Linked DNA regions of Homo sapiens: region 2 is linked to region 1. Evidence: fine-mapped expression QTL. A gene starts in region 1. The other region holds a variant in brackets. All regions are shown on one strand. Distances are between the middles of the regions.

Evidence for each region. PIP is the estimated chance that this variant, and not a neighbour inherited with it, causes the effect. A credible set is the group of variants that fine-mapping cannot tell apart.
Region 2: its variant is the best candidate, but not a certain one, in a credible set for the expression of CCDC50 in monocytes after Pam3CSK4 (Quach 2016, PIP 0.83).

What each region holds. Positions count from the first base shown.
Region 1 is chr3:191,326,122-191,331,382 of GRCh38, reverse strand. CCDC50 (coiled-coil domain containing 50) reads right to left here and starts at 1,989. Exons shown (of 12, transcript NM_178335.3): 1 at 1,660-1,989. The coding sequence starts at 1,708. UTS2B (urotensin 2B) reads left to right here and starts at 857. Exons shown (of 9, transcript NM_198152.5): 1 at 857-969; 2 at 2,674-2,752. RefSeq lists enhancers at 1,220-1,820, 1,821-2,422 and silencers at 1,834-2,113, 2,214-2,293.
Region 2 is chr3:191,299,297-191,304,787 of GRCh38, reverse strand. It overlaps UTS2B (urotensin 2B), which reads left to right. Exons shown (of 9, transcript NM_198152.5): 4 at 240-296. Among named protein-coding and RNA genes, the nearest start is that of CCDC50, 27 kb to the left of the region's middle. RefSeq lists enhancers at 2,328-2,853, 5,130-5,189, 5,200-5,379. The variant AT/T (reference allele first, on the strand shown) is at 3,304.

The DNA of each region.
Region 1 (5,261 bases):
TTAGAATACATCATTCATGTCTTGGTACGAAATCAGAAGACCTAAGGGTAATATAAATGTATATGAAGAGTTTTATGTTTTTTCACTCACATGAATAGGGGATTGGATAAAATCATAGCACCATATGATTAATACTATACATACCAGGTTTTGTTTGAACTCCAATTCTCATTCTACTCACCATGCACTACACACTGCACAAGGATCACTCTTTCTCTAGAGACAAACCCAACACATACCCACACAAAAAACCCTCATATCCAAAAGTAAAGGATAACCAGACAATCTCTAAGATAAGAACTCTCAAAAGTATGGATCCGCCTTTCCTATCGCTCAGCCTCCTTAGTCTTGACAGCAGAGTGAAAACTGTTTTCTACAGGTGAAAGCCCTAAGTCTTCATCAAAGCCATACCAGGGACGGAAAGGTAGAAAAGTATTAACGCTAAAATCTCACGCCTAAGCTTTAACACCCTTCCGGAACAGTAAGACAGAACTAGGCCCATCAGAAATTCTACATAAAATCAGTGACCACTAGTCACTAGTCTCCTAGTGCTTGAAACTCTGAGAAAGCAATCAAGCAGTCCCTCATTTTCCTGAGATTTTTGGGCTGGCCTGAGCACACACAAGACCAACGGAGTCAAATTAAGTTGGCAATAAAACAAGCGGTTCCAAGAAAGCAAAAACTATTTTCAATTCCACATCTCCAAGACGCCTCAGGCTACAGTATTCAATCGATACAAATGACATTCACAACAGAAGCCGATTTTGCAAAGCCCTTGGAACTTAGGGGTCTGCGTCAGCACTCTGGAACGTCTATGCTTCCTAGGACCAAAGAATAAACAAAGATAACTCAAGGCATAAGGCGATCCAGCACCTAAGATCTCAGCAAAAAAAAGCTAGGTCCTGAGGCAGCTAGTGGAAAAACAAGAGAAGGGAAGTCAAAAGGCTACTTGCTGTCAGCTAAAGCCAGGTCAGTACTAATCTCTACTTTCCTGGACATTGGTACAAAAAGCAATGACAAGGCCATCAGTCCCCTGTTCCCCTCGCTCACTATTGTGTGTGTGTGTGTGTGTGTGTGTGTGTGTGTTTTGTTTGTAAGAAAATGCTTATAGTGGCTTCCCGCCCGCGCAGAACACAGCCAAGACTAAACTTTTAAACCTTGAGGAAGGTGGGAAAGTCAGCCAGCCAGACGCCGGCCTAGGAAAAGTAGGGAGAGAAGGAGGGAAAGAGTCATGTTTCAAAACAAAGGCTCCACACGGAACTGAATGTCAACCCCTCTCCACTTCCCAGCCTTCAAGCCAGCCAGGCTGGGCCTCGATTTTTTAGAAGCGGAGTAAGTCAGATTCACCCGGCTCTCAGCGTCCACTGAGGCTTTGCGATGCACGAGAACACGGGCACAGCCACCTACTTGCTGGGGCTGCTGCTAGCCCCCCCCCCCCCCAACCACCCCCTTGAGAAAAAACGGGCTTGGAACGTCGGAGACTTGCCCAACGTCCCACACTAGAACCTGAATTCAATTCCTTTCACGTCCGGGCAAGGCCAACGCAGGGCGGGCACCGGGCGAGGGCCGCGGGAGCCGAAATGGCAACGCCCCTGACCTGAGAGAACCTCGGGCTGGGAGAGGGGAGGGTCCCGCGCGCTCTCCCTCCGGGGCCCTTACCTTCCTTGACTCCAGGCAGCTTGGACTGGTCGATGCTGACTTCAGCCATACCGGGCCAGGGTCCCGGTTGCCCCTTTAACGCGGGCTTCCCGGTCACCGCCGGCGCCGAGCGGGGCCCCGAGCGCAGCAGCAGCGCCGGACGCGGCGCAAAGTCCGGCCGGCAGGGCTCGCAGGCCGGAGAACGGAGCGGGTCGGGCGGGCAGGGGCTGGTGACCAAAGCAGCGGGAGACGGTCCCCGAGGCACCAAGCTGGCGGCCCAGCTGCCCCGCCGCGGCCACCTGCTCCGCGTCCCCGGCCCCAATCGATACCAAATATCCGGAGCCCGGAAATGGACCGGGGCCGTCCAGTACGGAGGGAGAGAGGAGACAGAAAGGCGGGCGGGCCGGCTGGGGGAGGGGGAGCTGCAGGTCTGTAACCGCAATTGCGAGTGGCTGGCGAGCGAAGATCAGCGCCCGCTGCCGCCTCGCTGTTGTCTCCTTTGTGCTCAGTGACGCGCCGCCTGAGGCTGGGGCCCCGCTGTGCTCCCGCCCCCGGGCCCTGCCCCCCTCCTACGGGAGGGTCGCGTCTTTAGGTGGGGGCCTTGTATCCTAAAGGCCTCAACAAAAAGGCCACACGGGTCACCTAAAACATAGTCTTTCCCGTGAGCGGTGTAGTCAGCATTCTGTGGTCTGGTTCTGGGATTGAGATTAACACAGGATGTTTACTGCATGCTTGCCTCTCTCTCATACACTCTTTTTGCACCCGGAATTAGAGGAGAGATGGTAGATGGCCATAAAAACCCCAAATACAACGTACAGAATGAAGAGCAGCTGATAAAATTCTGGGCCAGTTTGGAGTAGAGTGTGTACACAATCAGCTGGGAGAACTGAGTCATTCATTCATCAAAATCGCATGAATGTGTCTACCAAGTGTGATGTTAGGTACTGTGGGTGATAACGAGGCGTCAGACTTATCTCTGTTATAGCGCTGCACACATTGGATTGTAATTGTGACATTTCTATCTCTCTAAAATAGACAACCTCTCCTGTTTCATCTCCTGGCAACAGAATGCATCCTCCTTTTGGGAAACTGCCTCTTTCCCCACTCCTCAGAGGTGAGCTTCTCTCCCAAACGTGTGCCATGTCTGAACCTCGAGACTACCCCATCACTCTTCCCCCTTCCTCCACCGACATGGGTTCATCGAAGGGTGGCTGGGTGACCAAGACAGGTCAAACAGAATACTTTCCTGGGTACATAAAGAGTTACATATTCTGTTTCTTGTGGAAAAGATCTGCCTCTAGGAGATGATGAGGCCAAACTGAAGACAGAAGCAAAGAGAAGAGAAAGGGAGATGAAGAGGGCATGTTCTGATGTTACCACAGTAGCAAAGCAGGATATCCCCAGAGCAGCTGGCATTTCAGCAACTCCTGGATTCTGGGATCTACAACCCGCAAACTCTCAACTTATCCTCAGTTTTGCTTAAGCTAGTAATAGTTGATTTTCTGTCACTCACAGCTCAGAGTCCCAGTATGAGAGGCCACGTAGGGGAGGTTTTATTTGAACTTGACATTGAAAAGTAGGTGGATTTTAGGCTAGCAAAAATTTAGAAGACTTTCAAGGCCAGAGGGTAGCAAAGTATAGCCCACAGGCCAAATCTACGCCACTGAATTTGAATGACTGTTTTTTATATGTTCAAATAATTACATTTCAAATCACTACATAAATAGGACATAATATTTTCGACCTTGCCTCTTAAGCCTCAAAGTCTAAAATATGCTTTACAGGAAAAGTTTACCCACCCCAGTGCTAGGCAGAGATAACACTCAGCAGGTTAAATGTGGGAATAAGAAGGAAGTGGTATTAGAAAGGTAGATTTATGGGAATTTTTTAATTGTCCTGTAATCTAGTAATTTTTTTTAACTTCCTGTGGTCTAGAGAATATTTATAACAGCAGTATTTTCTGTTTCCCTCCCCAAATCTATCGTTTCTACTTCTCTACCAAGCCGTGCCTTTGGATGCCTACAGATAAATCACTAGGCCCCTTTGACCTGTGGCTTCCTGTTGTGATTGACCAATGGGAAGCACTGGCAGAAAATCAAAAGAAGGGAGGAGAGAAATATCAGAGTATTCTTCTTTCCTTTAACCCAAAATTTTGGCCACAGTCCTGTCCCTCTATGACTACAGGGCCTGTGTAGAGGCCTCTTTTCCATGGCCTCAGCTCTCATGGGTCTCTAATAAAACAATTTGTTTCCAGTGTCCCTTCAGGCCTAGAGTGTGATGGCTTCCCCTAGTTCCTTTTGGCTCACTGCAACTTCTGCCTCCCAGGTTCCAGTGATTCTCGTGCCTCAGCCTCCCGAGTAGCTGGGATTACAGGTGTGCACCACAACGCCTGGCTAATCTTTTGTATTTTTAGTAGAGGCAGGGTTTTGGCATGTTGGCCAGGCTGGTCTGGAACTCCTGGCCTCAAGTGATCCGCCCACCTCGGCCTCCCAAAGTGCTGGGATTACAGGCACGAGCCACCACGCCCGGCCTCCCCTAGTTCTCTTAACCCAGTTAATACCTCTGAAATTGTCTCTTCATTACATTCTTTTCAGTAAAATCACTTACAGTGCACCTCCTGTTTCCTACCTAGACTGTGACTGTTACAGTAAGATATGCCAAAAGTAAGATATGCTTAAAATATGATGTGCTTACAGTAAGATATGCATAAAAATATCCACATTTCTGGCCTAGAGAAGAAATGGAAACATATATAATAGCCACAACTATTGTTTAGAGAATCGGCTGCTTTCAGCAGAAAAAGTAATGAAAACCAGGAGCCCTTTTCAGGTACTAGAGCAGATGACCTGGAAATCCACCCCATAGTTGGGCTTTCCTTCTCCTACTCCACACCTGTTCTGTATAGGTCCCCAAGCTGAGCAAACAATTAGAGCTCAGCATTACAGAGTAGGCAACTTCTAGCAAAGGACTGACAGTAACACGGGGAAGAGCTAGTATCTTTTGAGTATTTATAGGGAATGAACATATGGTGAATTTCTGTAACAAGTTTACATCTTTTGGTGTCCTGAAATGTCCATTTTGCAATAAAAGAGAAAGCATAAGGCTTCTCAGGATGGATACAGATCCCTAATTTGGGGCAGATGCCAAACAAGTAATTCAGCATCAAATCACAACTTGAATGCCATAGAGAGAAATAAGGATTTTATTTATAAGGCAATATGGAGGCATCAATTGATTTTTTTTTCTAGGTGGATATTACATGATACATTTTCTACTTTTATAAAGTGAATTTGGTAACAATAAAATGCTTGGATTGGAGTAGGGAGACTTTGGTCATAAGAAATGAAAACTCCAGTTTGAAAACTACCAAATTCCACAAAAGCATCCCCCAGTTAGAGCTTACCTTACTAGAAGGTAAGCTCTGTGAGGGCAGGGGTTTATCTGTTTGATTCCCTAATATCCGCGTATCTAGAAAAGTGCTTGGCACATAATAGGCACTCAATAAATATTTGTTGCATAAATAAATAAATATAGTTATCCAATTTTATTATCAGTAAGAATCACAAATTAAAAGTAAGTTAAAAAAACAATATAGGCAAATGAATAAATTACACTGGACCTTG
Region 2 (5,491 bases), 27 kb after region 1:
TATATGCTTACTACCTAGGTTATGAAATAATGTGTATAACAAACCCCATGACACACTTTTACCTATGTAACAAACCTGCACATCCTGCACATGTACCACTGAACTTAAAAGTTTAAAAAGAAAAAATGACAATCAATATAAAAATAGCTAGTGTTTGGTGAGTTTCTGTACAATAGAATTTGAGGTTAAAGAGGATACGAGAGCATTATATTCACATTGTATAAATTTGCTTTCTGCAGAAGCAGAAGGATCCAAGTCAAAGGAGTTTATTTGGGAGGAAATAGCACGAGAGAATGGTGAGTAGGAGAAATGTACCTGGGAAAGGAAAAATGCCAATAGAATATGTTAACTAGCTAGTTACCAACGTGGGCAACTGGAACATAACCTCTCTAGCGAACTGGGATGATGGTGAGCAACATATTTCAGAGTTGCCCCAGTGAAGATCAAGGAAACCAGCATATTTATTTCTCAAATTCCCATCTTTCACTAGATGAAGTTTGCTTCAGGTTTCCTTTAAAAGCCACCAGCCAGGCAGGGCGCAGTGCCTCACGCCTGTAATCCCAACACTTTGGGAGGCCGAGGCAGGTGGATCACTTGAGGTCAGGAGTTCTTGACCAGCCTGGGCAACATGGTGAAACCCCGTCTCTACTAAAAGTACAAAAATGAGCCGGGTATGGTGGCGCATGCCTGTAATCCCAGCTATGGTAGGAGAATCTCTTGAGCCCAGGAGGCGGAGGTTGCAGTGAGCCGAGATTGCGCCACTGCACTCCAGCTGGCACAACAGAGCAAGACTCCATCTCAGAAAAGAAAAAAAAAAAGCCACCAGGCAATTCTTTCTTCTGCAATATATCCTTCCCCATTGAAGAGTCTGGGACCAAGCTGGACCTAACTAAGTGTGTGCCTCATCCTGTTCTCTGACCACATCTGCGTGGCCAGATTCTAATCTTAAATGGCATGAGCATTGGTCAAAACCACATGTGATACTCCGCAGACAACTGTTCATTGTACTGTCAATCTGAAATACAAGGAAAAACATTGGGAGAGAAACAAGATAAAAACATCAGAACTCATCCAATGTCATAATATTTGTGAGTAGTGCATCATAGATTAGATCTAGGCATTCTGAGTCCTAGTGATAGGCTCTTTTCAATAAGGAACACAACTTCTTGAATGATTTTAAACCTCGTAACATGATAGTCACATGGTTAGAGATAAATAGGCATTTGTGAATTAACAGTGAGTTTTTTTTTTTTTTTTAAGGAAATGTGTTTCCAGACACTACTGCCCAAATTTTTATCTTGAATTCTTCCTTTTCAGAGCAAATGTGTGTTCAAAGGACATGTGGGATGTCTGTTAGAGATATCTCATGCTAAAGCTATGATTGGAGCTGAACCTCAGAAGACAATAAAATTGATAGTTTTATAGGGGTGAGGGGAATTTTCCTTCCACCCTCTGAAAGTTTGACAATTTGAGTCTCTGGAATAAATTGACAGCAGATATATTAACAAGAGAAAAGATACCACAAGTTTATTATGTGGATATGCACGTGGGTCCTACAAAGTATGAGACTCCCAGAAGAGTTGGGTGGTTGAAGTTTATACAGTATCCTCAGCTACAAAAAGATATAGGGGACTGGGACATCTAGAGTCAGGCGGCCACAGGTTATGGGGTGCTGAAGGGAAGAAACACATGAGGAACAAATGCTGTTTTTGTGCAGATGAAGTTTCTCAGGTAGCAGTCCACAGAAGAATAGGTAGTGTCAATCTTTTTTCTCCTTTCCTGTTAGTTAATCTTCGCTATTTGATGATATTATTGTAAGGAGGGGCCTCATGACAATTGCATTCCTTTCACAGGAACTTTCTTTAGTGAGTTAAGGGAACTTTAGAGAGAGCCTCTTCATGCCTGCTTTGGGAGGGAAAGAGGAGCAAGAGACTAGGGGAACAGAGAAGGTCAGAGAGGCCTTGTTTCTCCTTTAGTTCAAAGCACTCAGCGTAACAAAAGTGCCATATTCTGGGGCATAATTTTTCTGAGTCCCAACAGTTTCTACAACCTTTGCCTTCCAGAGAATCCTTTCTTCTCAATCTCCATGTCTTAGCAAAGCAAACAGTAGTGCCAATAAATCTGAGTTTATGTTGTTATAGTAGTTAATGGACTTAACGAACAGCTCAGCTAAACAATCATATACAGGCAGGAGGTATAAATTATACAGGTGTCACAGGTTGAAACCTAGAATTGAGTTTCAGCCTGGGAGGCCACATGGGTCCATGGCTTTGCCCAGGAAGGAATTCAAGAGTGAGCCAACAGAATTAAGTGAAAGCAAATTTGTTAAGAAAATAAAGGAATACAAGTATGGCTACTCCATAGGCTGAGCAGCCCTGAGGGCTGCTGGTTGGCTGTGTTTATGGTTATTTCTTAATCATATGCTAAACAAGGGGTGGATTTTTCATGAGTTTCCTTGGAAAGGGGTGGGAAATTAGAGGAACTGAGGGTTTCTCCTCCTTTAAGACTACACAGGGTAACTTTCAGAGGTTGCCATGGCATTTGTAAACTGTCATGATGCTGGCGGGAGTGTCTTTTAGTGTGCTAATACATTACAATTAGCTTACAATGGGCAGTGAGGATGGCCGGAGGTGACTTTCAGCGCAATCTTGAATTTGGTGGGTTTTGGCCTGCTTTTCGATTGCATCCTATTTTATCAGGTCAGTGTCTGCATGACCTGCATCTTGTGCTGACCTTCTATCTCATCCTGTGACTAAGAATGCCTAACCCCCTGGGATTGCAGCCCAGCAGACCTCAACCTAATTTTACCCAGCCCCTATTCAAGATGATGTCACTCTGTTTCAAATGCCTCTGACACAAGCAGGATAAAAACTCCATAAATATTGACTCCATCTAACAGATTCTGTCAGAGGAAGAAATCTCATTTTGATAATGACATCTTTCTAGAGCACTGCTCTTTGAATAGGGTTTCCATAGATGTATTAATATTACCAAAAATTGGCCGGGCGTGGTGGCTCACGCCTGTAATCCCAGCACTTTGGGAGGCCGAGGCGGGCGGATCACAAGGTCAGGAGATCGAGACCATCCTGGCTAACTCGGTGAAACCCCGTCTCTACTAAAAATACAAAAAAAAATTAGCCGGGCATGGTGGCGGGCGCCTGTGGTCCCAGCTACTCGGGAGGTTGAGGCAGGAGAATGGTGTGAACCCAGGCGGCGGAGCTTGCAGCAAGCCGAGATCACACCACTGCACTCCAGCCTGGGCGACAGAGCGAGACTCCATCTCAAAAAAAAAAAAAAAAAAAA[AT/T]TACCAAAAATTTAGTTAATAAAACAAATACCAATTGTTCAGTATCTAACTTCATCTATAACTCAATGTTTTGATAACATTGAAGAATCTTCACAGTTCTCAACACTCTTGTGGTGAGAAACTCAGTGAAACTTGTGGAAGACAAGGTAGTGGCACTGTGACTCAATGAAGACTGAGCAAAATGGCATTTTGCAAAGCCAGGGATGTCTGAACTACTGTATTTTTTTCCATTCAAATCTTTAGGGCACCAGCTAGAATGAGACAAATTTTCTTTTCTAGTTTCACTAAAGCTTATGCAAATTCTTGAATCTGTTTCACCACCCGGAAAGACAGCTAAAATCCACCTAAAGAGGAACAGGCTGGGTTAGTCAAGGAAAGAAGGTGACATATTTTGGTTAGGGCAGTAAGTCACTTTCATAAATAAAGAAGAAAAAGTGATAAAATGGAATGCACACAAAAATAGATTTATGGAGGAAAAAGAGTAACCATACCAAGAATATTAGTTTTTTCTCAAACTGCTATAAATAAATACCTGAGAATGAGTAATTTGTTTTAAAAAGAGGTTTACTTATTGTATGGTTTTGCAGATTGTAAAGAAAACATAGAGCTTCTGGGGAGGCCTCAGAAATCTTACAATTATACCTGAAGGCAAACATAAAGCAGGCACATCTTACATGGCCAGAGCAAGAGCAAGAGAGAGAGGGGGCAGTTGCCACACACTTTTAAACAACCAGATGTCATGAGAACAGCCCCAAAGGGGGAATTCTACCTCCATGATCCAATCACCTCCCACCAGGCCCCACCTTCAACACTGGAGATGACAATTTGATGTGACATTTGGGTGAGGGCACAGAACCAAACCATGTCATTCTGCCTCTGGCTCCTCCCACGTTTCACATCCTTCTCACATTGCAATACAGCCATCCCTTCTCAGCAGTCCCCCAAGTCTTAACTCATTCCAGGATTCACTCAAAAGTTAGTCCAAAGTCTCATCTGAGACAAAGCTAGTGCCTTCTGCCTATGAGCCTGTAAAACTAAAAACAAGTTAGTTATTTCCAAGATACAATGGATTTACTGGCATTGGGTAAATACTCCCATTCCAAAAGGGATAAATTGGCCAAAAGAAAGGGGCTACAGGCCAGGCACGGTGGCTCACACCTGTAATCCCAGCACTTTGGGAGGCTGAGGTGGGCGGATCATGAGGTCAGCAGTTTGAGACCAGCCTGGCCAACATGGTGAAACCCCATGTCTACTAAAAATACAAAAATTAGCCAGGCATGGTGGTGGGCGCCTGTAATCCCAGCCACTCGGGAGGCTGAGCTGGGAGAATCGCTTGAACCAGGAGGCAGTGGTTGCAGCGTGCCGAGATTGCACCACCGCACTCCAGCCTGGGTGAAAGAGCGAAAACTCCGTGTCAAAGAAAAAATGTATATATGTGTATATATAAAAAAAAATGTTAAAAAAAGAAAAGAAAGGGGCTACAGGCACCATGCAAGTCTGAAAGCCAATGGGGCAGTCATTAAATCTTAGAGCTCCAAAATAATCTCCTTTGACTCCATGTCTCCTATCCAGGGCACATTGATGCAAGGAGTGGGTTCCCAAGGTCTTGGGCAGCTCCACCCCTGTGACTTTGCAGGGTTCAGCCCCCGTGGCTGCTCTCAAGGGCTGGTGTTGATTTCTTGTGGCTCTTCCAGGTGCAGGGCACAAGTTGTTGGTGTATCTACAATTCTGGTGTTTGGAGGATGGTGGCCTTCTTCTCCCAGCTCCATTAGGCAATGCCCCAGTGGGGACTCTGTGTGGGGGTTCCACCCCCACACTTCCCCTCTGCACTGCTTTAGTAGAGGTTCTCCATGAGGGCTCAGCTACTGCAGCAGGCTTTTGCCTGGACATCCAGGCTTTGCCGTACATCTCTAAAATCTAGGTGGAGGCTCTCAAGCCCCAACTCTTGCACTCTGTGCACCCACAGGTTTAACACCACATGGAAGCTGCCAAGGCTCATGGCTTGCACTCCCTGAAGCAGCAGCCTGAGCTGTATCTGGGGTCCTTTTAGACGTGGCTGGAGCTGAAGCAACTGAGCTGTGAAGAGCAGTGTCCAGAGGCTGCAAAGGGTATTGGGGCCCTTGCCCTGGCCCACAAAACCATCCTTCCGTCCTAGACCTCTGGGCATATGATGGGAGGGACTGCCCC